3 separate regions of the Homo sapiens genome follow, and all the other regions are linked to region 3. The links come from fine-mapping of genetic effects on gene expression. A gene starts in region 3. Each other region holds a variant in brackets. All regions are shown on one strand. Distances are between the middles of the regions. Region 1 holds the start of PON3 (paraoxonase 3). Region 2 overlaps PON2 (paraoxonase 2). Region 3 holds the start of PON2 (paraoxonase 2).

Region 1 (8,186 bases), 39 kb after region 3:
ACCTTTCATTTCTCCCTCTCCCTCACCACCCCTTTGCTCATATCCAAACAATTGCCAGTCCCTCCACCTAAACATTTCTCAAATCCATACAATTCTAAGAACTTTGAGAAACAATCTCCTCACCTTCTCCAATCACCCTCACATATCTCACCCAGAAAGGCATCTAACTATCTCCTAGCCTCCAGGAAGGGTAAGTGCTCCACCTGCTCCATAATCCACTCTCATCATTGTGTAGCAATGTTTCTAAAACACCTGCCAAAACATGTTACTTCCAGTGGCTTCCCAATGCCCCTTAGAATATAATTCAGGTTTCTTAACTTGGCCTACAATCTGCCTTCCTCTCCAGATTCAATTCTCACCATCTTCTTCCCAAATCTTTAAGCTCAGTGATTCTCAAAGCATGGTCCCTGGGCCAGCAGCATCAGCATCACCTGCAAACTTGTTAGAGATGCAAATTCTCAAGCCCCACCCCAAATCTAACAAATCTCAAACTCTGGGTCTAGGACTCAGCAATCTCTCTTTTAAGGAGCCCTCCAGGTGATTCTTAGGCCTGCTGAAGTTTGAGAACCACTGCTGTATCCATACTGGACTATTTCTGTTCCAATTCCCCTACTTGCGGATACCCCGACCTCTTTCTGTGAACCTCACCACCCTTTCTCCACTTAATTAACTCCTTCTCCTTGTCATACAATCTGACAAGTTCATGTAATATGTTGAATCTACCTTGAGATGTGTTCCAAACTAGAGTCGCTGAGGGGCTACCAGATATTGATGAAAAATCCCCTGAAGACAGTTAAAGTGGAAGATAAATCTGGAAAGAACCTTCCTGGCAAAGTGTGGCCCCTCAAGGATCCCCCCATTCACTTGGTGCTTACATAGTGAAATGTGAGCCTGCTGGAACCCTGGTGCTCATCCTGCTAAATACACTCAGCGCAGATGATTCCTAGCACACCACAGGTTGCACCTGAAGTCCTGAGTGGGGGAACCTTCCCCATGGTGAGTTGCAGGAAGTCACCAAACAAGGTATCAGACTTTCACTACCTGACTTCATTATTAAGTGCATCTTCAGAATGAAATTGAGAATTTTATTTAAATTCAGATATACCTAAATATTTAATACTTAAATAAGTATAAATTTAAAATAATAAATTTTCTAAATAATAGAAGTCATTTCTTAAAATAATACAAATATCTGGTCCTCTAGCATTTCTCTCTTCTGAGCAGCACTAGACTCATTAATGCCATGTAGTCGTACCCAGGTTTTAAACAGTGGTTTCTATGGCTTAGGACAATGTTTCCTAATGTTCTAAAATCCATATCCTCTTTTTAAAAAACAGCTTTATTGCAATATAATCATAATCTCTTTTGATTTGTTGCTCTTTTTCTCTATCGCCACCTCTTTTTCTTGGCAAGATTCACTGATAGAAACAATCTTTTTAAATTAAAAATGTAGCGATTGTAAACATGATCAAGATATAAAGTTTGAAAATTTTAAACATTACAGAGGGTCGTACAGTAAAAGCAAAGTCTCCTTCCATACTCACTGACCTCCCCACTCTCCACGACCCCAATCTTCTGCTCTCAAAGTAACTACTCTTCAGTTTATGTCTAGATTGTTTATATATATATATATATATACACACACACACACACACACACACACATATGTGGATAATATGTAATTCCCCTAATTTTATACCTTAGAATTATACCACATGTATATTCTGCATCCCCCTTAATGGCATTTTGATTATCAATGGTGTGGGACTCCCTAGATCTATATATAGTATTGTGTTACTTACTGTTTAAACGTATAGCATTGAATTTGGTCTACATTAGCTCTTTGAAAGCCCCACTATACATATAAGGAAAGAAGGGTCCAGAGGTGGTGATAAGTGATTTCAAAAGATTAAAGGGCCAACTACAAATGGAATTGGATCTTGAATTTAGGCCTTTTGAATTTATCTGTCCTGCTCTTTCAAAGTCAACAAACCCCTTTTACAATACTGATGTACCTGTGGCCTCTTGACCAAGTCAATTTGGCCTATTGCCAAGAGCAGATTTAGATGGTGACACTCGATACAGTGGCCTCCAAAGTTTGGAATTCTTTAATGCTAATTTACCATGCTGGGGATTTGAATTACTGATTATGGTATTCGAATAAAAACTAACCACTTCTAGGGTTTAAAGTTAATGTATACACACACACACACACACACACACACACATGCACACACACACACAGAGACTCCTCTGCCTAAAGTGAAGAATTTTTAAACAAATTATAGCTAACACAGAACTTCAATCAATTGCCCAAGAATACGCTTCTTTCTTTACCCCCTTCTTCATGCTATGCTGCAAACACAGTGATAAGGAACATGAGCTCTAGAGTCACCTGATCTGAGTCCAGATGGAGGCACTGACACTTAGTTATGTAACCTTAAGTGAATTATTACTTTACCTCTCTAAGCCTCAAAGCCTCACTTTCCTTCTTTTTAGTCCCATCAAACTTGCAGCAAGCAATTCACTTTACTTCTTTGTAGGTAAGGTTAATAAGAAGTAATGTGACAAGGCATGCAAACGCTGAGTGAAATAATAATATGACTATTATTATTTCATTATTCATTCCATTTATTTTTTATTCTTCTAATTTTTCTTTCTCCCAAGTCCATATTTTACATCCATCCATCTAATCATATTTATTGAGTCATTATTAAGCACAAAGTTCTATGGATGGCACGGGAAAACCCAGTGATCAATGCGATGGAGTCCTTCCCACAGGAGCCTACAATCTCAAGCAAAGTTCAGAATTAATTAGTGGTTAATCTTTACTGACTTCATAAAACGTATCAAGCACAGTGCAGAGCACTTGACACTCATTATCACATTTAATTTTAAGCTACCTATGAGGTGGACGTTCTTTTACAGAAGAGGAATCTGTAGCTCAATAAAGCTGAGTACTTTATCTAGGCTGGATCCAAACCCAGGCAGCCTGACTCCCAAACCCTGCATGCATGTCTACATCACACCCCAGGCCCCTCAGCTCTGTGAGCCCTCCTGACTTCGATTCCTCCTCTGCTTGCACTCTTTTAACATTAGTCATCTTAACAAGAACTCTAATCTATACAATTCAAGACGTTACACTGTCCTTTTAATACAACCCTTCTTCCATAGATTTTCTAGAGGCAGCATGGTAGAGGCAGCTCAGTTAAGGGCCCAGATTTTGGAGTCTGCTGCTTGACAGCTGCCTGACCTACAGCAAGCCACATAAGCAATCTGTGCTGCAGGTCTCACCTGTAAAATTGGGGTAAGGCTACCCACACTCCAGAGATTGTGTTGATAATTAAATGCGTTAACATAGGTGTCAGCACAGGCAAAGCACACAGTCAGTACTGCATAAGCGGTGGGCTTCATTATTCATCCTGTAATTACGTATTCATACTAGAATCATGTATCCCATAGGTCAGGGACCACCTTTTCTTTCCTTAATACCCCCAGGATTGGCAAATCTTGCTCTCTCAACAAATAGTTTACTCGGTGGAACCTAACAGAACTAATATTTCTTTCTGTCCGTAAATAAAAATAGATCATGCTTGAATGTGCTACTTTGCCCGAACTCCCCAAGTCTTCCCGCATCTTCAGTTCCTCCCCCTCCAACCTGGTGTTCATCAGGAGAGGGGAAAGAGCATTTCTTGCCTGGCAGGAACTCAAGACCTAGAAGAAAGAGGGCCTACCCTGCCAAGGAAATGACCTTCCCCTTCCTCGCCTCTGCTCCTCTTCCCGTTTCCTGTCTTTTCCTTCTTTTCTCCTGGTGTTTCCTTCTCCCGTTAACTATGGGGACAGACGCAGCTATTCACAAGTCCGTCTGGGCAGCACACTCCGAGGTAAGGCACGAAGGTCAGGAGACAGGTTCCCGTGCCCCAAATCCTGGAGAAGATGAGTTAAAGCTCTTCGCTTCGATTGCCTTCGCCCTTCCCGCGTCTCGGGAGCAATTCAGTGTCGCCTCACGTCTGGCCTTGCAGAAGTCCGGAGTTCCGGCTCTGAACTGGAGCTCCCCGCCATTCCCGGGCCCTCCGGTTTCTCCCTCAGGCCATCTGAGGAATTGAGGTAGGATTTCGCGGGTGTTAGGAGCAAACTCCCACCACAACTCGGTCCCGGGCTCCCTCTCCGTTGAGCCTTGACCTCTGCCCAAAAAACAAGGAATCGTGGGCGTGAAGGCGGCCTTGAACCCGGGCGGCGGGGCTCGGCGGGACTCGTCAGCGCCCTGCTGCGGCACCCGGGCCGCTCAGGTAAGTAGGAGGCGTGTGCGGGCGGGGCCGAGCGGGCCCCA[A/G]TCCGTACGCGAGGCAGGAACCGCCCGCCGCGCCCCCGAGAGCTCTCGGCGCCGCGCAGTCGCCGCTGGGCACCCCGAGACCATGGGGAAGCTCGTGGCGCTGGTCCTGCTGGGGGTCGGCCTGTCCTTAGTCGGGGAGATGTTCCTGGCGTTTAGGTGAGTGGCATCTTGACAGGGCGTCTTCGACTCTCTTTCTCTCCTCTTCCAAGTGAGGTCAGGGGCTGCCTGGCGCCCCCTTCCTAGCGGGTAGGAAAGAGCAGCTTTGGAACCTCACTCCTCCATCTCACCCAGCAAACCGCCCCTTGAGACTCGCTTATGGGGAAAGTGAGCTACTTGCGTTTCCAAAGACTGCCGAGCCGAATTAGTCCCATTTATTTTTTGAAGGTTATGATCCCCCACTTTGCTTTCTGAAGGTCATGACCCCCTTTTACTTTCTGAACGTGATGACCCCTTTCCCAGCTCGCCCTCAACATTCTGCTTGGGAAAAAAGGACGTCCATTGGAAACGCCGGACTTGGGAGAGAGGATCAGGCTACCAGTTGGATGTTTACGGCTGACTGAGACATTGCCCAGGTCTGGCTAACCATGCAGAAGTACTGGGTTATGGAACCTATCCTAGATTTAAAGAGCTGGCCAGACAGCAGGGCAAACCAGCTGAAACCTGCAGGCGGTAACTGGCATTTTGTAGGCATTTGACCTTTTGAAGTGGAAGATACAATGGTGATAGCCAGCCTAGAAATGTCTCAGGAAAAGTCAATACTGGGCTAGAAAGAAGAACCTTTAAGTGATAATACACATTCATGAGTGGATCGAAAGCCTCTGCTTGCTTTCAGTTGTCTTTGAGTGTTTATGTATTTCTCTTAGTTGAAGCTGGTCTTCTTAGAGGATCACGTCTAGAATCTGTTGAGGTGCCTGGTGCCTATTAGTAATACTTCCAGTTTGAGAGTTTTATTGTTACATTTGCTCCCAGTGCAACCACATGGAGAATCATAAAATAATAGTAATAATAATAAAGTAGATCTAAGGGTATTTTTTTAAATAAATGACTGTAAGATAAGTATTGAGTCTTTCTGAATATACTTTAATAAAAATTTTAAATTATCCCTGATATTAGAAGAATGTGGAAACATTCCTTTTCACTCTGGAAACAAGAAAATTGTGTTGAAAAATAAATCGGCCAATTGTTTAAATTGTGGTTGGTTTAATGAATTTACATACTTGCGGAGTAAGTCAGCATAAAATTTAAAAATTAAAGCAAAAGTGATAGAGTTTGACTATTAGGAGACCCTGTTGAATTTTGGGAAAGCAGTTTGGAAGGAAAAGTTCAAAGGGCAAGACTGTAGGGGATTAAGTGCAGATTTATAACAGACGATACTTTAGAAAATTAGGGCTATTTCGTGCATTTAAATTAATAATATTGTTCAATTACTCATACTATTAAATAGTGTCTTTTATTTGGGCAGCAGAATTTTCCATGTTGAATCATATTATACAGTTTTTCAGCAATAACTGGGTAAGGTTAGCTGATATAGGTAAAATACCCACATAATGTCTACATTATGTAAATAAACATGAAAGGAAGTACCTACTTACTTGTTATGTCATTCATAAATTATGATAAAGATAGTTAACCAACACGAAGATGATTGAAGTCCACATTTAAACATACATTTTGAATGCTGTGCCTTGACTTCCAGGGTTGGGTTTTATCTTCTACAGAGAAAGGGTGAATGCCTCTCGAGAAGTGGAGCCAGTAGAACCTGAAAACTGCCACCTTATTGAGGAACTTGGTATGTATGTGACAGTACCAAGAGGAGCCAGCACAGCTTCTTGGTCGTCATCCACCTGACTGAGCCCTACCAGCTCATTTAATTACCTGTCACTACTTAAGCCCTCCCAGTGGGACATCTGCCCCGTCCACTCTGCCCCATGCAAGGTCTTCAGGGGTGTACTAAATGACATTCTTTGTGGGTTTTTCTCAGCACATTTCCTTACTGACATCTCTCCACATTACCTAAAGAATGTCATTGACCACTCCCTGGTTTTCCCCTCACTGAATGCTTCTCCTTTCCCATCTGTGGTATTTCACTCTCCTCCTTGTCCTCTGTTACCTTTCCTTTTTTTGCTTCTTTCTTCTTTCCTTCCTCCCTCCCTTTCCTTATTGTCATTCCTGGCTTCAAGTGTTATTTTTTTTCAAATAATATGACTCAGCCCCTCCCCTCAAGAACCTCACAGCAGGCTGGGCGCAGTGGCTCACACCTGTAATCCCAGCACTTGGGAGGCCGAGGGGGGCGGATCATGAGGTCAGGAGATCGAGACCATCCTGGCCAACATGGTGAAACCCCATCTCTACTAAAAATATAACAATTAGCCGGGCATGTTGGCGGCGTGTGCCTGTAATCCCAGCTACTCGGAAGGCTGAGGCAGGAGAATCACTTGAACCAGGGAGTCATCGGAGGTTGCAGTGAGCTGAGATCGCGCCACTGTACTCCAGCCTGGCGACAGAGCGAGACTTTGTCTTAAAAAAAATAATAAACGAAGGAACCTCACAGCCTACCTACCTTCTTTTAAAAAAATTCATAAAAAATCCATGGCCCAGTCCCTAACCTTTCAAACTGCAGCCCTTCTTTTTTAGTCAGTTAAAGGGCAGCTCCAGCTCAAACTCTCCCTAAGCTGAAATCTATTTTACATTTCTGTCGTTTTCTCCCTCATCCTCCCACCCACAACCAGCTCTGCTTCTAGACTTTTCCTATGTATGGTACCCCCATTCTCAAAAGATTCAGTTCAAAATCCAGGAACCATTGTTCCCCGCTTGTCCCTCATGCTTCTACGTGAGACATGGGCTAATCTCACCTACTAGTTAATGCCACACCTGCTTATTTGGGCTCCACAGCTCCAATTCTTCCTGACATTGCTAACAGAAAAATAAAATAAAATCAGGCTAGATTGTGTTCCCTGTTCTGGGAATATGTTCTTTCACCTTCTCACCTTTGCTTATGAAATTCCCTCCAAACTTACTGATTCCTCTGTCTCTGCTTACTAAAATCAGCTGCAAAATTCATCTCCTTCCTCTGAACTCTCACAGCACTCTGAAGCTCCGATTCACTTATGACACCTGCCACATGCCTTGTATTATAGCTAGCAGTGTTCTCTCTTTCACTATCAGATTGTAAACTCCCTAGGGCCAAGAACTGTGACTTATTTATTAGAATGTGATGAGATAGCTTATTTTGGGATATGATTTTCTATTTTATTGCTATATTTAAAAATACAGAAAAAGTACCCTTTTGATTTGAGTTTTCTGCCTTTTCTTGCCTCTCAATTTCTAAAAAATAAAGTAATCTGAACCTTGCACTCCCTAGTCTTAGAGGTGGTTTGTGCTAGCAGCTGGAAAGCAGAAGAAACCAAAGAAAACGCCTTTCCTGAATTGTTTTTAAAAACCTGAGCCCCTTCAAGGGATTCTGTTGGAGAAGGGATATGAATATGTGGATATCTTTGAATAATGGGGATCCTTACCCCACTGGCTGACAGCATTCTGGGAGAGGAGCAGGACCTCAGAAGGAATGGTTGCAAGGTATCTTTAGGGACGCTGGACCCTGTGTTCCAGCTAAGGTAAAGACCTTGTGTCAATGCATTACATGGAAGTAGCAGAATTGTCTAAATTAAAGGGACCAGTAACTTTGGCAATGAATAATTCGATGATACGTAGTGTAGAATGAATGCCAGATGGCCTTTCCAAAACATTCTGCTTAGGTTTAGAACCCACCACTTAAAATGATTTCATAACCCTAACAGACAAACCCAGTAATGACTCAGATTGGATTTTCCATCAACTTAGTGGAATAGGATATCAGAGT
Region 2 (8,186 bases), 24 kb after region 3:
CCGGCTAATTTTTGTATTTTTAGTAGAGATGGGGTTTCGCCGTGTTGGCCAGGCTGGTCTCAAACACCTGACCTCAGGTGATCGCCTGCCTCAGCCTCCCAAAGTGCTGGCATTACGGGAGTGAGCCACCACGCCCAGCGCAATCTGTGTTTTAAATGTGCACTATTAAGAGGGATATTTGAGGTCTTACTGTGGATACTCAATACTAACATTATACTATTTTAAATACAGCATCTACTCATCTTTCTATTACTATTCAACTTGAAGCAAATATTCTTGCCATTATTATTTATTTTCAAATATTATACCAACCTTGCCCTTTTGCTTTCTTTCTTTTTTCCCCTGAATAGCCAATCATAAGTGGAAAGTCATTGAGTTTATTTACACCCTTCATTTTGCCTTGATTCTTGTAAGCTGAAAAACAATATCCTTTCTGGGTATACAATAGAAAGACTTTAAAAACAATTGGCTTGTGAATATTGTTGTGAATATTGTTGAAACTAGCTTGTAACAATGTCCATTCTAATTGGAAATCCAGATAAGGGGACAGATGAGGAGGTTCTGACCACCTACCTCCCTGGCTTGGGCAGACATAGGAGTTCTTGGCATCTTCATAGGTCCAGTTTTTCTGGAGGAAGAAGTAACCAACTCTGACACCTGACTGTAATTATTCCATTTCCTCTCAACATCCATTATTTTCAGGCTCTGAGACTCAAGAGGGATGTGAAATACTGGGAGATACTTAGAAGGGAGTCACCACACTAATAAAATAGTTGTTAGACTTATGAGAAAGGTGAGAGAACTCAGGTTGGAGTAGAATGAGAATTAGAACACTCTTCAGGTTCCTGATGGTTTTTATGTGAAAGACAGTGAGCAGCTGGTTATTACCACTGAGGCAATAAAGAGATACTGTGGGCTTTAGCAGAAACACCAGTATATGTATTTAGTTTTTAAAATAAGGTTTTAAAAGGAATGTTTTATTTAATTGCCTACACAGAATGAATAAAGTGATATTTATAGTAGGACTCTGGGTTTGTTTAGGAGCACATGCTTGCACATGTGTGGCTTAGGAAAAACCACTGGGACCACTAGTCTAAAATATTCATAAGTAAAGATGCAAACATTCTGAATAAAGTAGAAGGCAGTTGCATTGATTTTTTTATTTGTTTATTTGTGTTTTTTGTTGTTGTTTTGCAAGGATGTGTTCTTGGAGATTTTTATAATCTAGAATTCACCTATTTCAAGATTTCTCTCCAGCCCCCATAGTAATAAATCTGAAGTAGGAGGGATGAGGTCTCCAAACACATAAATCTACAGCCATTTTAGCTTGGGGGCATGTTATAGTTACAAAGATCTTATAGCCATATCAATAGAACTTTTTCTGCTTTTTTTCTGTTACCCTCCTTTGCTCATTTGACTTTTTTTAAAATTTAGAAACATTCCCAGTTTGCTGCTGTTTTTCATTTACTTGGCATTGTCTCTAATAAAACCTAGAGTGTACTCTCTTCTAAATAAAGAGGTCCTACATTGTGGAGGTTGTTCATTCTTCTTCCTAGCATTTTAGCTCATCTAACCCAACCTATTTTACAGTTATGGGTTGAGGGTCACCTCAAAACTAATGTCACACTTCATGAAGAATTGGATGACATAGAATAAAATATAAAAAATGTAAACAATGTGAGTGTGCTTAACACCACTGAACTGTACACTTAAAAATGGTGAAAGTGATGAATGTTGTATGTATTTTATCATAATTAAAAATAAATTTTTAAAAAGAGAAAAAATACTTAAATAAATAAGGAGTGCGAACATAACCATGACTAGTTATCACCATCTGATAGTGCTTCCTTTGCATGTAAATCATGCTTTTGTTTTGGGGACATTCATAAAGAATAGGGATTAACTGAAGTGGCACTGCCATGTAACAATAGCATAATTCCAGTTTGTTCTACTTACCAGGCTTGCCCTCCATGAAAATATACAATTGTAGATAATCTTTTTTAATTGGAGAGATTTCCTCTTATGTCCAATTTTATACATAAAGTAAGACTTTTTTATTGTGTGCCTAAATTTGTGTAAATATGACTGCATCGTATTAGTAAACTGAATTAGGTAGTGCATTCACATAAAATTTAACATCACCAAGAAGGCTTTACCTTAAGAATGTAATGATGAATCACCATTTTAGATAGACTGATAGGTAATTTATTAACTGATTTAAAAGAGAAAAGACCTATATCATCTCAGTGAGTACCAAAAAGCATTTAATAAAATTCAATACTCATTCCTAAAGTTCCAAGCAAACTAGAAAGATAAGGAAAATTCCCACAAAACTACAGCAAACATCATTCTTGATGGTGAAGCATTGGCTGCATTTGCATTAATGCTCAGAACAGGAAGAAAATACCCAACACCACAACCATCAGTAATCTACTAGAGTTCTTAGTAATTCAGTAAAACGAGAAAAAGAAATGTGAGATAGAAAAGAAAAAGACAAAACTGTCATTAGAGAAGCAGGGACTGGCTCAATTGCCCAGGCTGATGTGCAGTAGTGCAATCATAGCTCACTGCAGCCTGAACTCCTAAACTCCTGCGCTCAAGAGGTCCTTCCACCTCAGCCTTCCGAGCAGCTAGGACTACAAGTGCTCACCATAACACTCAGCTAATTTTTTTTTTTTTTTTTTTTTTTTTTTTTGTAGAGACAGAGTCTTGCTATGTTGCCCAGGCTGGTCTCAAACTGCTGGCCTCAAGCAGTCCTCCCACGTCAGCCTCCCAAAGTGCTGGAATTATAGGCATGAGCCACCAGGCCTGACCTAAAGCTGTAGTAATTTAAAAAGTGTTATATTGGCACAGGAATAGACATGAGACATTAAAATAACAAAACAGAGAGTCCCTAAATAGACCAATATGTAAATGTCAGAGATCTAGCACATGATAAAGGTGATATTTTGAATCAGTGGGAGAAGGATGGACTGTATGCCAGGCACTGTTCCAGGCACTGGGATCTAGCAGTGAACAAATTTCCACAGTCAGTATGTAGATGTCACTTTTCTCCACCCTCAGCTCTCCCTGGAATCACCTAGTCCACCAACCTTCTGATTACTCTCTGAAGAGAATAAATCCCTGATCTTCTTTTCAGTTATTTTCAGGCTTTCAGTATTCCACCTCCCCGTTATTATTTTTTCTGTTATCTTTTCTCTGTTTTTTGAGTTTTTGTGGCTTTATGCCACTACTTTAACCACAATCTCTATTTATCCTTCATGTACAGTTCCCATGTTAGTCCATAAAAATACTTAAGCTTTTGTATTTAACATTTTTCACCGTTTTGGAAAGGGTCTAAAATTCCCAGGACTCCACAGCTTTGCACCAGATAAGCCTGGAGGAATACTAATGATGGATCTAAAAGAAGAAAAACCA[AG/G]GGCACGGGAATTAAGAATCAGTCGTGGGTTTGATTTGGCCTCATTCAATCCACATGGCATCAGCACTTTCATAGACAACGGTAAGAGCCAATGGGCTACCAACATTTAGTAACGTGTGATGGTTCACAAATGACTGTGAAAAATAGATTTGGATCATATTTCTAGGAAGAGAAGAACAATTAACTCATGAGTGATTTCTGTATTCTTCATTACAAAGAACTTGTTCATTTGCCTCTTCAGCTGGCAGTAAGTTATGCTACATTTTGAAATTCCTAACAGGTAACACCTGAAAGAATGTTTAGATTTCATAATCTTTTCATATACCTACGATCATCACATTTAAAAAAGAACTGTATTTTTGAATTAAAGTAGAAACAGATTATGCATGAATTCTGTATATGGAGTAGGAAACACTTTCTTAAAGGTCAGGGAGCCAATGATCAGAAATAACACCAGACGGACAGCAATAGGAAAGACAGAGAATGATCTGTTAGGTCGTCTAACAGCTTATACATTCAACCTTTCCTTGCCTGTGGTATTTAAATGTCAGTGCCTGCCCAGAGGTCCCGTAGTTATGTCTTGTAAATTAACTCTGTTCTTTCAATTCTTTAGATGACACAGTTTATCTCTTTGTTGTAAACCACCCAGAATTCAAGAATACAGTGGAAATTTTTAAATTTGAAGAAGCAGAAAATTCTCTGTTGCATCTGAAAACAGTCAAACATGAGCTTCTTCCAAGGTACTTCCTCATTTTGTTCCTTCTCTAATTTATCCCCAGCATTTGCAAACAATCCCTATGGTGGGTTGTCCTGTCATCTTTTATAAGCGCTAATGTATATATTAGCTAATATGTAAGAGCTAAAGAGCTTATATTTCCTTATTTATAAATGTGTGTGTATAGTTTCCTTATAAACCAGGGCAAGCATGGCATATGAAAGTTGATGTCACTCATACTATTCACTGTTCTATGCGGACTCCTTTGAGAAATGATGAAGTGCCCGACTACAGGGTGATACTCTTCAGGCCCATCTTGAGGGTAGAAGGCAAACCCTAACATTTTTTCCTGCTGTCACCCTCCATCTTAGATGACTCATCACCCAGATGAGTGTCTTGCCAAGGAAGAATGGCCTGTTTTTTATTGGGTTTGTATGCTTTGCATGGGACTTTATACCAATCGCTTTCATAGGGTTAGTGATGGTTGCATGCTAGTAATCCCACAGAATTAGAGCCACTCAAGTTGAGAGTGAGTCATTACACTTCAAGAACATAAAGCTGGTTGAAAATGTGGCTAAGAGAGAATCATGTGTACCCCCACCCCCAGTTCAGTGTGTATTAGCCTACTGCTTCTTTTAGTTTAAACTTGATGAATATTTTTAATTTCTAATGAAATTTCATTTCTAATGAAATTAAAAATATTGCCTATCTAGGGCCTATCTATGCCTATCTAGGGCATAAGCATGTAACTTCCAATCATTCCTTCCAAAAATGCACTTGATAAAAAAAAATAGGAGCATAAATACCATCCAAGCATTATGGTGCTCTTTCAGAAAAATGAGACCTACCTTCCCTGTAGCTCTATATTTTTCATTTAGCAAAGAATAAAGCAGCTCTTTCAGAAATTTTTGCATAGAGTAATTGGAATTTAAATTTAATAACACCCTCACCTAACTGGTCTTAAAATGAAATTGTTTTTAGCATATAAATCTCTCACCTGAAGCATTGTACTATGGCAATTTTATCATCCATCTCTCTGCAAGTGTTTATTGAGTGCCTGTTCATTCTCGGCATGTCAGCTTTGTGAAGCAGGTAGAAATTGAACAGTCAACCTTAGTTTGACTAATAACTAAGCCAGGGAAATTAGAAAAATCCAGGAACTGAGTAAATGGAAGCTAGGTAAATGTTACTGACTGCCTAACCAGCTCACCAGCCAATCAGGCTCTCTCCAGCTCTGTACTGTGGACAGCTCTGTCCTTACGTATAATTGTTAAACCCTACATTTCTTGCTGTCAAAAAACATGCCCTGATGGCACTAAGTTCTTTCTTCTCTTATGGTAATCCTGCCATAATTGCTAAATGACCTGTGTTCAGATTACCTGGTACCATACAAAATTGTTCTCTGGCAACAATATTATAGTATATTGTATATGACTATAGTCGTGATTTTTAGCTCGTCTTTTCCTCTTACCAAAAATTTAAAGCACATGTTGCATAAATCTTATGAGTACTTAATATTTAATATGGAGACCAACAGGCCTTTTGTTTCCTCTCACATGCTATTTTTCTTTTTCAGTGTGAATGACATCACAGCTGTTGGACCGGCACATTTCTATGCCACAAATGACCACTACTTCTCTGATCCTTTCTTAAAGTATTTAGAAACATACTTGAACTTACACTGGGCAAATGTTGTTTACTACAGTCCAAATGAAGTTAAAGTGGTAGCAGAAGGATTTGATTCAGCAAATGGGATCAATATTTCACCTGATGATAAGTATGGCCCCTTATAGAATATCTTCATTTTTCTTCAGTTGTGGTGCTGGCCAAATTCTTTACTTTGCTTTCTTTGTCAATGTGAAAATAGTTTTCTTGACATTTATGGTATATTATACATATAATATATAGATACACTATATATATAATTATATATGTTTTGTATATATATTTACATATACTTAGTCACATGTATTTATATGCAAATACAATACCATATTTAAGTAAACTATATAATACAGTAATATATATGTATTTATATATAATATATAAAGTTTGGAATACATCATTGTCAAATTTAATTTTATAAATATAAATTTTAAAGTGTGATCATACTGATGCATACATATTGAAGTATCAGGTATTTCCTTTTAAATAAATGTATTATTTTTATTGGCTATACATTATTCCATTATAAGGATGATCTTAAACTAATTTAACCAATTCTCTATTGATGGATATGTGTATAGGGGTGGGGAGTTCTACATAAAAAATATTTTATACTTCTTATTTACCATGGAATTTTAAACAAGTATTTTTTTTAAAGAAAAAGTCCCTAGGAGAGTGTTTTTTTTTTGTTTTGTTTTTTGGAGATGGAGTCTCACTCCGTCGCCCAGGCTGGAGTGCAATGGCATGATCTCAGCTCACCTCAACCTCCGCCTCCTGGGTTCAAGTGATTCTCCTGCCTCAGCCTCCCAAGTAGCTGGGATTATAGGCATGCGCCACCATGCTTGGCTAATTTTGTATTTTTAGTAGAGATGAGGTTTCTCCATGTTGGTCAGGCTAGTCTTGAACCTCCAACCTCAGGTGATCCGCCCACCTCAGCCTCCCGAAGTGCTGGGATTACAGGCATATGCCACCACACCTGGCTCTAAGAGAGTATTATAACATAATGGTTAAACTTGCAGATTTTGGACTCATACAGGCCTGGGTTCAAATCCCACCCAGGGCACTGGCTAAATGGTTCTATGAGCTACTTTTCTGTAGAACAGACCCCTAGAAATAGAACTATTTGCTCAAACAGTGTGATTCTTTTAAATGTTAACTTTAATAGATATTGCCAAATTGTCCTCCAGAATTATCTCATTATTTTTATATGCACAACCACAACCTATAAGAGAAGATATTAAATTCTTGATAGCTTTCTTATCTACTGCCTCAGCACACTGAAAAATTTAAACTACTACAAATACAACATAAAATAAATTTGGCACTCCTTGACAACTAAATGCCCTTATTTTTGTAATCCAATTTCTCCTCCTTTCTTGTTGACTATAGAAAAAGAATGTAGAATCATTTAATTTAAATTGTCTCTAACTGACCTGATCCAACCTCTGCAGCCAAATCTGTTTTTCACTCTTATATTTCCATTATGAGAGTCAAACTTTCCAATCACCCAAGCTAACAAAAAAATAACAATAATGAAAAGGGAGAATCAGCTTTTACTCCTCTTTCACCATTCCTATCCAGCCTGTAGGCAGGTCCTGTTGGTTCTACCTGTGCCTCCTTCCTCTACCCCCAAACTCCTTTCCCTTTGAGTGAGACCTGCCTAATTTAGGTTGTCATCCTCTCTGACTAGCATATGAGACTTTCTTCCAATTTGTTTTCTGTCTACTTGGATTTTTTTCACTCTTGCCAATTTTGTCTGTCTATCTCTATTAGCCTTGAAGGGCTCCCCAAAGAGGGAACTCTGTCTTCCTCACCTTTGACTCCTTATGCCAGTACAGTGCCAGGCACAAAGCAAATGCTCAGGAATTGTGGAACAGAACTGACCATTTGTTGCCACTTTATTATTCTAAGATTTCAGTGGAATCCAATTGCTTATCAAATCAAGGCAGGGTAAAGGGTTGGACTTTGTTTAACAGGCCACCTCCAACCTCCCTTTTCTACTATTTCCATGCTTTCTATGCTTTAGACAAAGAACTCATTGTTTTAAACATTCCTTCCTCTTCTTGCTCCTGTGATTCTGCTCTTGTGCTTGCTTCTGCCTGGGAAGTGCCTCCTCCGTCCTCATCTCAAATCTCATCTCTCTTTACACAGCCACTGCAGATGCCCCTTCCTTGGTGAGCCTTTCTGTGTCCTCGGAAGTTAGCTATTTCTAGACCTGAACTATTTCTCATGCTTATTAGGTGTTTAATGTGTACAAACCAGTGAGATTTGTTCCAACACACTATAAACTTTCAAGGAGAGAGGCTGTGTCTTCTTCATGTTTATATCTGCTGCAACACTGAGTTCATGGCTTTTCACACATAATTGCTCAACAGAGCAGGTGCCATG
Region 3 (8,186 bases):
CAGACCCCTTCATTAAGCCTGTTTCATTAAGGCTTCTAAAAGGAGTAGAACGTACGGTTCATTCATGGAGAACTACAAACAATGCTGCTTTGGACAATGGAAAACGTGCATGCATTTCCTAGAAGAGGATGTAACATGTCTTTACTTTTTCCATAGAGTTCAGCCCATCCAAAGTCAGCCTCACATGGAGGTTGGGGAGTTTTTGTATCTTTCTCTTCCTGCTCCCCTCTTTTCTCCCAGTGTTTTCTTCCTCTCTGTCCTCTTCCCCAGGGTTCAATGGCTCCTGGAAGAGAGGCAGCAAAGCCTATAGCTCTCCAAATAAATAGGCTTGGGTCTCATGGGGACAGGCAAGCCAACTGGCCTAGACGTGAAGTTTACAAAGAGCCCTAAATGTTGACTTTCAACATTATCTCACAATTCATTTATTCATACATCACAAAGATACAGTGACACAACTGAAAAAACTCATTCATTTTAAACTTGAGTTCCATGACTGGACCACTCTTCCTATAGCAAACCAGGAATAAATATTTTTTATGAATTGCATAATTATTTTGTAACTAGCACATTACATTGTATTTTATCTCTGTTTATGAATTTGACCTCTACAAACAAGTTAATATCATTCAACCTATTATTTGAAGATGTTAATTTGTTGAACATAAATATTAAAAAAAAACTTTATGTTTCTGTTATGCCATTTCTTCACTTTTTAATATGTTGGAATTCTCAGAAAACGGCCTGGCTGTGGGGAGGTTTCCTTTACTCTTTGAGAAGCCACGGAGTGAGGCATCTACAAGGCAAATCTTTCTTTTGCTGATAATAACCATCTTTGATAGCATCCCTTCAATGCATTTTTGTTCCCTTTTTAAAACAGAAGTAAGGAGAAGAAGGGATAAAAGGAATATGGAGGGCCGAACTCCCTGTCACATATTATATAAAATTACAATAATCACGAGTCACCTATTTCACAAATTACTGTGAGCGTTACAATTAAGAATACACTGCAAAGAACTTTAAAGAGTTAAAAGTACAATTATGAAAGGCAGTGTGCTCCAGGGACCATTTCAGTCTGTGAACTCTTTGTTTCTGGTCCATGGCTAGTTAAGTATAAAAAATTGAAAGTAAGCATTTAGAAACTGTTACAGAAATTTGACAAAGTAATTTTATGTCTGTTGAACCAAATAATAAAAGATTTGGGCTTGTATTTTGTATGTCTGGTTTTTTTACTTCCTCTTCCAGTAAGTCATTTTCATTGCATTTTACAAAGGCCAAGAAAAACCTGTCCTTCACTGCACATAGTTTGAGAAGCACTGATAAAAGGTATTATTATTTCTGAAATTTTGCTTAAAAAACCACTTAATAACCACTAAATAAGTCAGAAGTCATTATTTGAGAAATACTGTTTCATACCAAGTATAAGGAGTTGCCAGCACACAAGCAAGTTCCAGAACAAGTTTGTTTTGTATTGAGTAACTTGGTTATTTGGTAGTCAGAAACCACTTTCCCCAGGAAACAAACGTAAACCAGGGGTTATGTTCTTGGTGTGGCCTATACATCCTAGTTATCTCAAAAGACAGCTAAACTATACTATACAATGTAACAACCACTATAACATTCTTACAATGGTTTCTGATTTCCAAATTAGAAAATACGTCTCATCTCCATCCCCATGTGAGGAATGACAATTCCAGCCCTAGCATGGTGGTGGGGCTGGGGGTAAAGATGGATACTACTTCTGCAAAAGTTGCTTCAACCGCAACATTCAGAAAGAGAAAGAATATGGGGGTAGAAGATTCCTCACACAGATTATTGGGGGAACTCACTGGTCATGTTAATAAAGTTAAAATAAGGTTTCCATTTCTCTTGATTCTCTGAGGGTGAGCTTAGGTAGGTTTTGGTGGACTTGAAAGTCCTGGCTCATTATCACAAATGCTTCCATGCTAAATCCCAAGGTGTTGTTCCTCCTGACCACCCAGCACCAAGATGGCAAACAGGTTTCATCCTGAACTGAAATCTGTTCCCTAGCTCAGGGATTCTTATTTCCCTTTCGTTGTTGTTTTAAAAAATTGTGAGGACAAGTCTGGGTGTGATGAGACACTTTGCCAAAATCAATTAGTGACGCCTACCATGGGCCAGGGAAGAAAGGAAAGTCAGCACAAAAGCTGGTTTTGGTTGTTGTTGTTGTTTTTGCTATCCTGAGACTAGCCTAAAAGATGTAGACCTCCAACCCTTTAATGTCACCTGGAACCAGGTTGAAGAACATGACTATTAAGAACATGACTTTTTTCTTTTTAAAAAATTGGGAATAGCAAAAGGGAAATAGACAGAGAATAGCATATACTTGGATATTCTTATTTGCCATCTATGTGGTTTCCTCATTTTGCGGAACTTGTGGAAAGACACGGTAGCCTGGCTCCTGACCCAGAATCCATGAGGCATAGTTGTATGTACTTCCCTTGGGGCCTAAGAGATTAAGAGAGAAGCCCAGACAATAGTCCAAGGCCCTCTGCTTTAGGTCTTTCTTCTAAATTCTGATTCTTTAATTTTTTTTTTTTGTTAATTTTAATTTTTTTTTTGTAGAGATGGGTTCTCCCTATGTTGCCCACAATGGTCTTGAACTCCCCGCTTCAAGTGATCCTCCCACCTGGGCCTTTCAAAGTGCTGAGATTATAGGCAAGAGCTACCTTGCCAGGCCTAAATTCTGATTTTGTATCTGAGGCTCTTCTCTTCCTCAATAATTGACACCAAAAATAGTCCTAGAAAGGAGATTCCACCCTTCTCTAAACAGTCATAGCCTTAGCCTATGTCAGAGTTCTTAACCCAGTGGTCCATTGATAGTTCAGAGGAATTAATGACCTTGGATAAGAAAAAAAAAATCTTGATTTCAAATGGAATTTAGCATTTTCTTCAATTACAAAACTAGCAGACAAACCTCAGAAGCATTTGCAGTACTTGTGACTGTTACTAATGGAAATAACAGTTATTTTCATTATTTCATTATAGTTGTTTTCAGTATCATGAAAGAACATTTGCACTCCTCTTTATTTAAAAGAATGTTGCTAGATCTTGTTATTTAATATGTTAAATAATGTTGCACACATTACATTACCACATTACTATAGCAAAAAATTATGTTTTAGATATTTTAACAATTACATTTCAATTGTTGACCTTTAATTTTAAAGCTAAGGCAAAATTAATGTAAGTAGAGAGTTTATTTGGGCCAAGTTTGAGTACTGCAACCCAGGAGTATAGATTCAAGTTTCCCTAAATATACACTCTGATTAGCAGCAGTTACACATAGATTTTTAAGGGGAAGGAAGAGGCAGTTCCTAAATTCCTTGCGTTAAAATAACATAAGCTGTGGATTGGTTATACTTTGTTCTTTGTATCATAAATTCCAGGAATATGAAGATAATGGGTGGGACAGCTACTCGGGAACAAAATGTCTTTAAACAACTGTCCCCAGGCATGGGTATTGGGGCGTGACTGAAGTCCCATACTCATGTCGCTCTGGGCCTGATAAATTTTGCATACCTCACAAAGCTCAGACTGCTCTCAGCTATTTTTTTTCCTTACAATGTAATTGATTTTCTTTGCAATCTATACATTTTATTCATTTATTTAAAATTTTTTTTTCTTCTTTCTTTTTTTCATGAACCGCACAGAGAAAATTTATGCATTTTATTGTAAGCATTTATAAACATTATTCTAAGAAGTTATCCACAGGCTCACCACTGCCAGAAGGGTCCACGACACAAAAAAGGTAATGCCTCATGGGCTTTCAAAGGACAACTTTTTACTTCTCTTTCTACCATCCAGTATAATCCAATATCCTTAGGACTGAAGCAGAGATACACACACACACAGGGAGAGAGGTGTTTGTGCTTTTTTTTTTTTTTTTTTTTTTTGGTGAGAGGCAGGTGGGAAATTGGCATCCACTTTTATTTACTGGTTCTTTATAAAACTGATATTTGTTGAAAATTGTCAAGTGTGACCATTTCTGCCTACATATTGTAGGGTGGCAATTAAATACCGAAAACCATTAGAAGCTTATTTCAGATGTACTCATTTATTGTAATGGTATCAATCTTGATGGGTAAATTTCATTTTACTTTTAAAATTGTATTTTAAATTATTCCTTCATGTTACGGTTGTTAGAGTAAAAACGGAAAAGAAAAAAACTACACTTCTTCCCTTTGAGTTTGGATGAAAAAGACGTGTCTAAGTCCTTAAGTCTGTAGTCTGGAAGTATTAATAGAGGCTGGGCATGGTGGCTCATTCCTGTAATTCTAGCACTTTGGGAGGCTGAGGCAGGAGGATGGCTTGAGTCCAGGAGTTTGAGACCAACCTGGGCAACACAGCAAGACTCGGTCTCCACACACACACACACAGACACACACACAACTTACACACACTTAGCTAGGTGTAACGGTACGTGCCTGCGGTCCCAGCTACTCAGGAGGCTGAGGCTGGAGGGTCCCTTGAGTCCGGGAGGTCCAGACTGCAGTGAGCTATGATTGTGCCAATGTACTCCAGCCTAGGCAACACAGCGAGACCCTGTTAAAAAAAAAAAAAAAAAGTATTACGAGGCACAGGATGTTTATTTATTCGCAACTACGTCCTGTTATAAAAAGTAGTGATTCCAACGTGAAATATTTACACGACGCATCCCGTTACTTTCCCTCCCTTGGCCACCGACCCCCATCCCCAAAAGCTGCTTTCTATGTAAGTTTCTCACTGGAATAGCGAGTGAGAAATGTGTTTGAAGACTAGGGAAACGAGAAAGGTATGCGGGCTGCTAGAGGGTTTCGGGTGGGTTGTTTGAAAAAGGAAGTGAAGGAATTCAAAGTTTCACATCATGAGCCTAATGTAAGGCGTGTCCGGGCCGTCCCGAAGGTATCTGGGGAAATAGGTTTGTGAGGACAAAGACCAGGGCCAGGCCCAGGGCGGAGCCTCCGCGGCCCCGACGCAGGGACTCGGCCTAGGCGGAGGACGGGGCGGAGCGCGGCCGGCACCATCGAGCCGGGAAGATGGCACCGCCCACGGAGCTGCTGGCCAGGCCGGAGCGAGGCAGCGCGCCCGGCTCCCGCGCCATGGGGCGGCTGGTGGCTGTGGGCTTGCTGGGGATCGCGCTGGCGCTCCTGGGCGAGAGGCTTCTGGCACTCAGGTAGGTGGGACTCCCGCGCGCCCCTCCTCGGCGGTCCCCAGGCTCGGGGTGGCCGCGTGGTGCGGGGAGGGCGCAGGCTGGGGGAGGGATTCCTGCGGGACCTGGCCCTGCGGCCGGGGGTGGAGAATTTTTGAATGCTGTCCCTCCCCCAGCTAGTTGAACCCCCATCACCCCGACTCTCCGCTTCTAGTGAAAAAACTAGCAAAGTTTGGAGTGAATCGCGACACTTTCTTGAAAGTTTATAAGCCCTTGCTGCTAACAAAGTTCTCTTCTGCTTAGGCTGACAAGAGAATGCTTTGCAATTACCCAAGGGCCAAACTAGTGGTTTAAATTGAAAACAAAATGACTACTCATGCATTGAAACCTTAACTATGAAGATTTATTTCAGGTCATTGGTGCTGTTTCTCCTTGTTGCCCAAACCAGACCCGTCTTTAATAAAGTTGTTCTCCACCCATTTCTGCATAGTTTGAGAAACTCTTCAGCTGTAGATCAAAGACACTTGAAATATTCAGCTACTGTTCTTACTTCCTATTTATTCACCAGGGAAGCCTGAAGCCAGAATGCCAGACAGCGCAGACACTATTCCATCTCGCATTTTAGTTTTAATGAAAATCTCTGGTAGGTAGACATCATCGTTTATAAATTACCAACTCAACGTTTGTTTTTTGTTTATTTTATTTTTTGTAGAGATGGGGTCTTGCTGTATTGCCCAGGCTGTTCCCTAACTCTTGCACTCAAGCAATCCTCCAGCCTAGGCCTCCCCACAGTGCTGGGATTACAGGTGTGAGCTGTTCTGCCCTGCCTCAACCAAAATTTTATAGGCCTCATGCAAAAGAGTTCCAGAAAGACTGAGCACCTGCTATGTGTAATGTTCTCTCTTAGGCTTCTATAGTAGAGTACGACCCTTATGGAGTTTGATACAGGGGAAGAGAGAATTAAAATACAGTAAATGTATAAATTAGGATGTTCTAAGGACAGACACAAATGAACCGCATAGGCTTAAAGAGGAAAGATTCCATCCCCTGAGGGTGGAGTTCTAGAGGGAGGAAGAGACATTCGACCTGACCTTGAAGGGTGGGTGCAACACATATGAGCATGAAGGGGCCCATGCCAAATGTATAGTGCAGCAGGAGCAAAGGGGCTAAGGTGGGAAGTTGGAAGACTAGCAAATGGGCCAATTTGAAGGGAGCATAAAGTCAGGAGATGAGAATAGTAGGGTGGTGGGAAGGATAGGTTTTGAGGCCATTAAATATAAGTTGAAAAATGGGGCCCCACTTTCATAGGCCCAATAGTGCTTCAAAAGGGAAATATTGGTGGGTTTTGCTTTTCAACAAGAACTTAATATAACTAGTTGTGTTTTATAGAGATAAGCCTGGAAGGGGGGATTGGAGGAGAGCAATGGTTCTCTGTACATTAGAATCTCCTGGAGGGCTGGTGTCTGAGTGGCACCACCAAAGATTCTGATTCAGCTGTTCTGGATCAGAATCTACAGCTCACACCTGTAATCCCAGCACTGTTGGAGGCCTAAGCCAGAAGATTGCTTGAGCCCAGGAGTTAGTGACAGGCCTGGGCAACATAGCAAGATCCCACCTCTACAAAATGAATAAATAAATAAATAAATAAATAAAAAACAAAATTTGAGTTGGTAATTTATAAACTATGGTGTCTACCTACCAGAGATTTTTCGTTATAATTAAAATGTGATATGGAATAATGTATTGTTTGGCAAGCTGGCTTCAGGGTTCCCAGGTAAATAGATAAATAAGGAAGTGCATAATGTAAGAACAGTGGCTGACAGTAGCAGTGGCATTTTTTATTTTTAAAAACATTCCTGATAATTCTAATGAGCAGTCAAGGTCGAGAACTACTAGAATAGAGAGCAGACATGGGGTAACTGGTTAAGGTATTGCAGTAGGTCAGAGAGGATAACAGGGACCCAAACTCTGGAACCCCAGGGATGAGGGAGAAGTCAAAGGTGCTACCAGAGTTTGTGCCACAGCTCCACTGTCCCATGGTTGTAGTTTCATCTACTGATAAAGCAGTGCAAAGAGGAAGCGTGTGGTGGCTGAGATGGGAGTGAGATTTGAGGAAAGAACGCTTATGGGTAGGAAATGGACATGTTGACCTTAATTTTCATGTTAGGTAATGCCCATTGTGCTCTACAGAACATTCATGAGTTGGATGACTTTGTATATGATCTGTCCTGCTCTCCATTTCAAAGGCAAGACCACCAAAATTCACAAGCTTATTATGTTGTCACTAATGTGTAAGCCACCAGTTTTTCTGCAAGTTGGAAGTTTTCTCAACAGTCAAATATTCCCCCTTCTCACTAATCTTAAGGTTTTAAAGTTATAGCTGCAAATCTAAAAAAAAAAGAAAAAGTAAATAAAACTTATTGACAGAATGCCTGATAGTTTATTTACAGGTTTTTGTTTGTTTGTTTTTTGTTTTTCTTTGTTTTTTATTTTGACACAAGGTCTTGCTCTGCCGCCCAAGCCAGAGTACAGTGGTACATCAAAGCTCACTGCAATCTCAAACACCTAGGCACAAGCAGTCCTCCCTCCTCAGCCTCCTGAGTAGCTGGGACTACAGATGCATGCTACCATGCCCAGCTAGTATTTTTATTTCTTGCAGAGACAGGGTCTCACTTTGTTGCCCAGGCTAATCTCAAACTCCCAGCCTCAAGTGATGCTCCTGCCTCAGCCTCCCAAAGTGGTAGGATTATACACATGAGCCACCACCCTCGGCCTACTTTACAATTTGATGCACCTTTTCTTTACGTGACTGTGATGCACTTTAATGGGCAGTGACTTTATAAAATGGTAACTTTATTGGATATGTGGAGCCCCAAATGGGCTGACGTGAGAATGTTGGGGTAGGTGGTGGGTGGCTGGATTTAGCAAAGAAAAATGTAGGCTACCCAGTTAACTTTGAATTTCACATGGATTTTTTTTTTTTTTTTTAGTATAAGCATGAAATACTTATACCATACTTTTAGCATTAAGCGTGGAA

Evidence for each region. PIP is the estimated chance that this variant, and not a neighbour inherited with it, causes the effect.
Region 1: its variant is fine-mapped to the expression of PON2 in unexposed skin (GTEx, PIP 0.95).
Region 2: its variant is fine-mapped to the expression of PON2 in whole blood (TOPMed, PIP above 0.99).

Annotation. Positions count from the first base shown.
Region 1 is chr7:95,392,577-95,400,762 of GRCh38, reverse strand. PON3 (paraoxonase 3) reads left to right here and starts at 4,388. Exons shown (of 9, transcript NM_000940.3): 1 at 4,388-4,486; 2 at 6,049-6,119. The coding sequence starts at 4,413. It overlaps LOC107986822 (a long non-coding RNA gene), which reads right to left and starts at 4,291. Exons shown (of 2, transcript XR_007060439.1): 1 at 3,735-4,291. The variant A/G (reference allele first, on the strand shown) is at 4,331.
Region 2 is chr7:95,407,625-95,415,810 of GRCh38, reverse strand. PON2 (paraoxonase 2) reads left to right here. Exons shown (of 9, transcript NM_000305.3): 4 at 3,334-3,499; 5 at 4,032-4,158; 6 at 5,710-5,910. The region is part of intron 1 of LOC107986822 (a long non-coding RNA gene); the gene reads right to left. Among named protein-coding and RNA genes, the nearest start is that of PON3, 15 kb to the right of the region's middle. The variant AG/G (reference allele first, on the strand shown) is at 3,418.
Region 3 is chr7:95,431,865-95,440,050 of GRCh38, reverse strand. It overlaps PON2 (paraoxonase 2), which reads left to right and starts at 5,023. Exons shown (of 9, transcript NM_000305.3): 1 at 5,023-5,173. The coding sequence starts at 5,100. RefSeq lists an enhancer at 4,666-5,236 and a silencer at 4,911-5,340.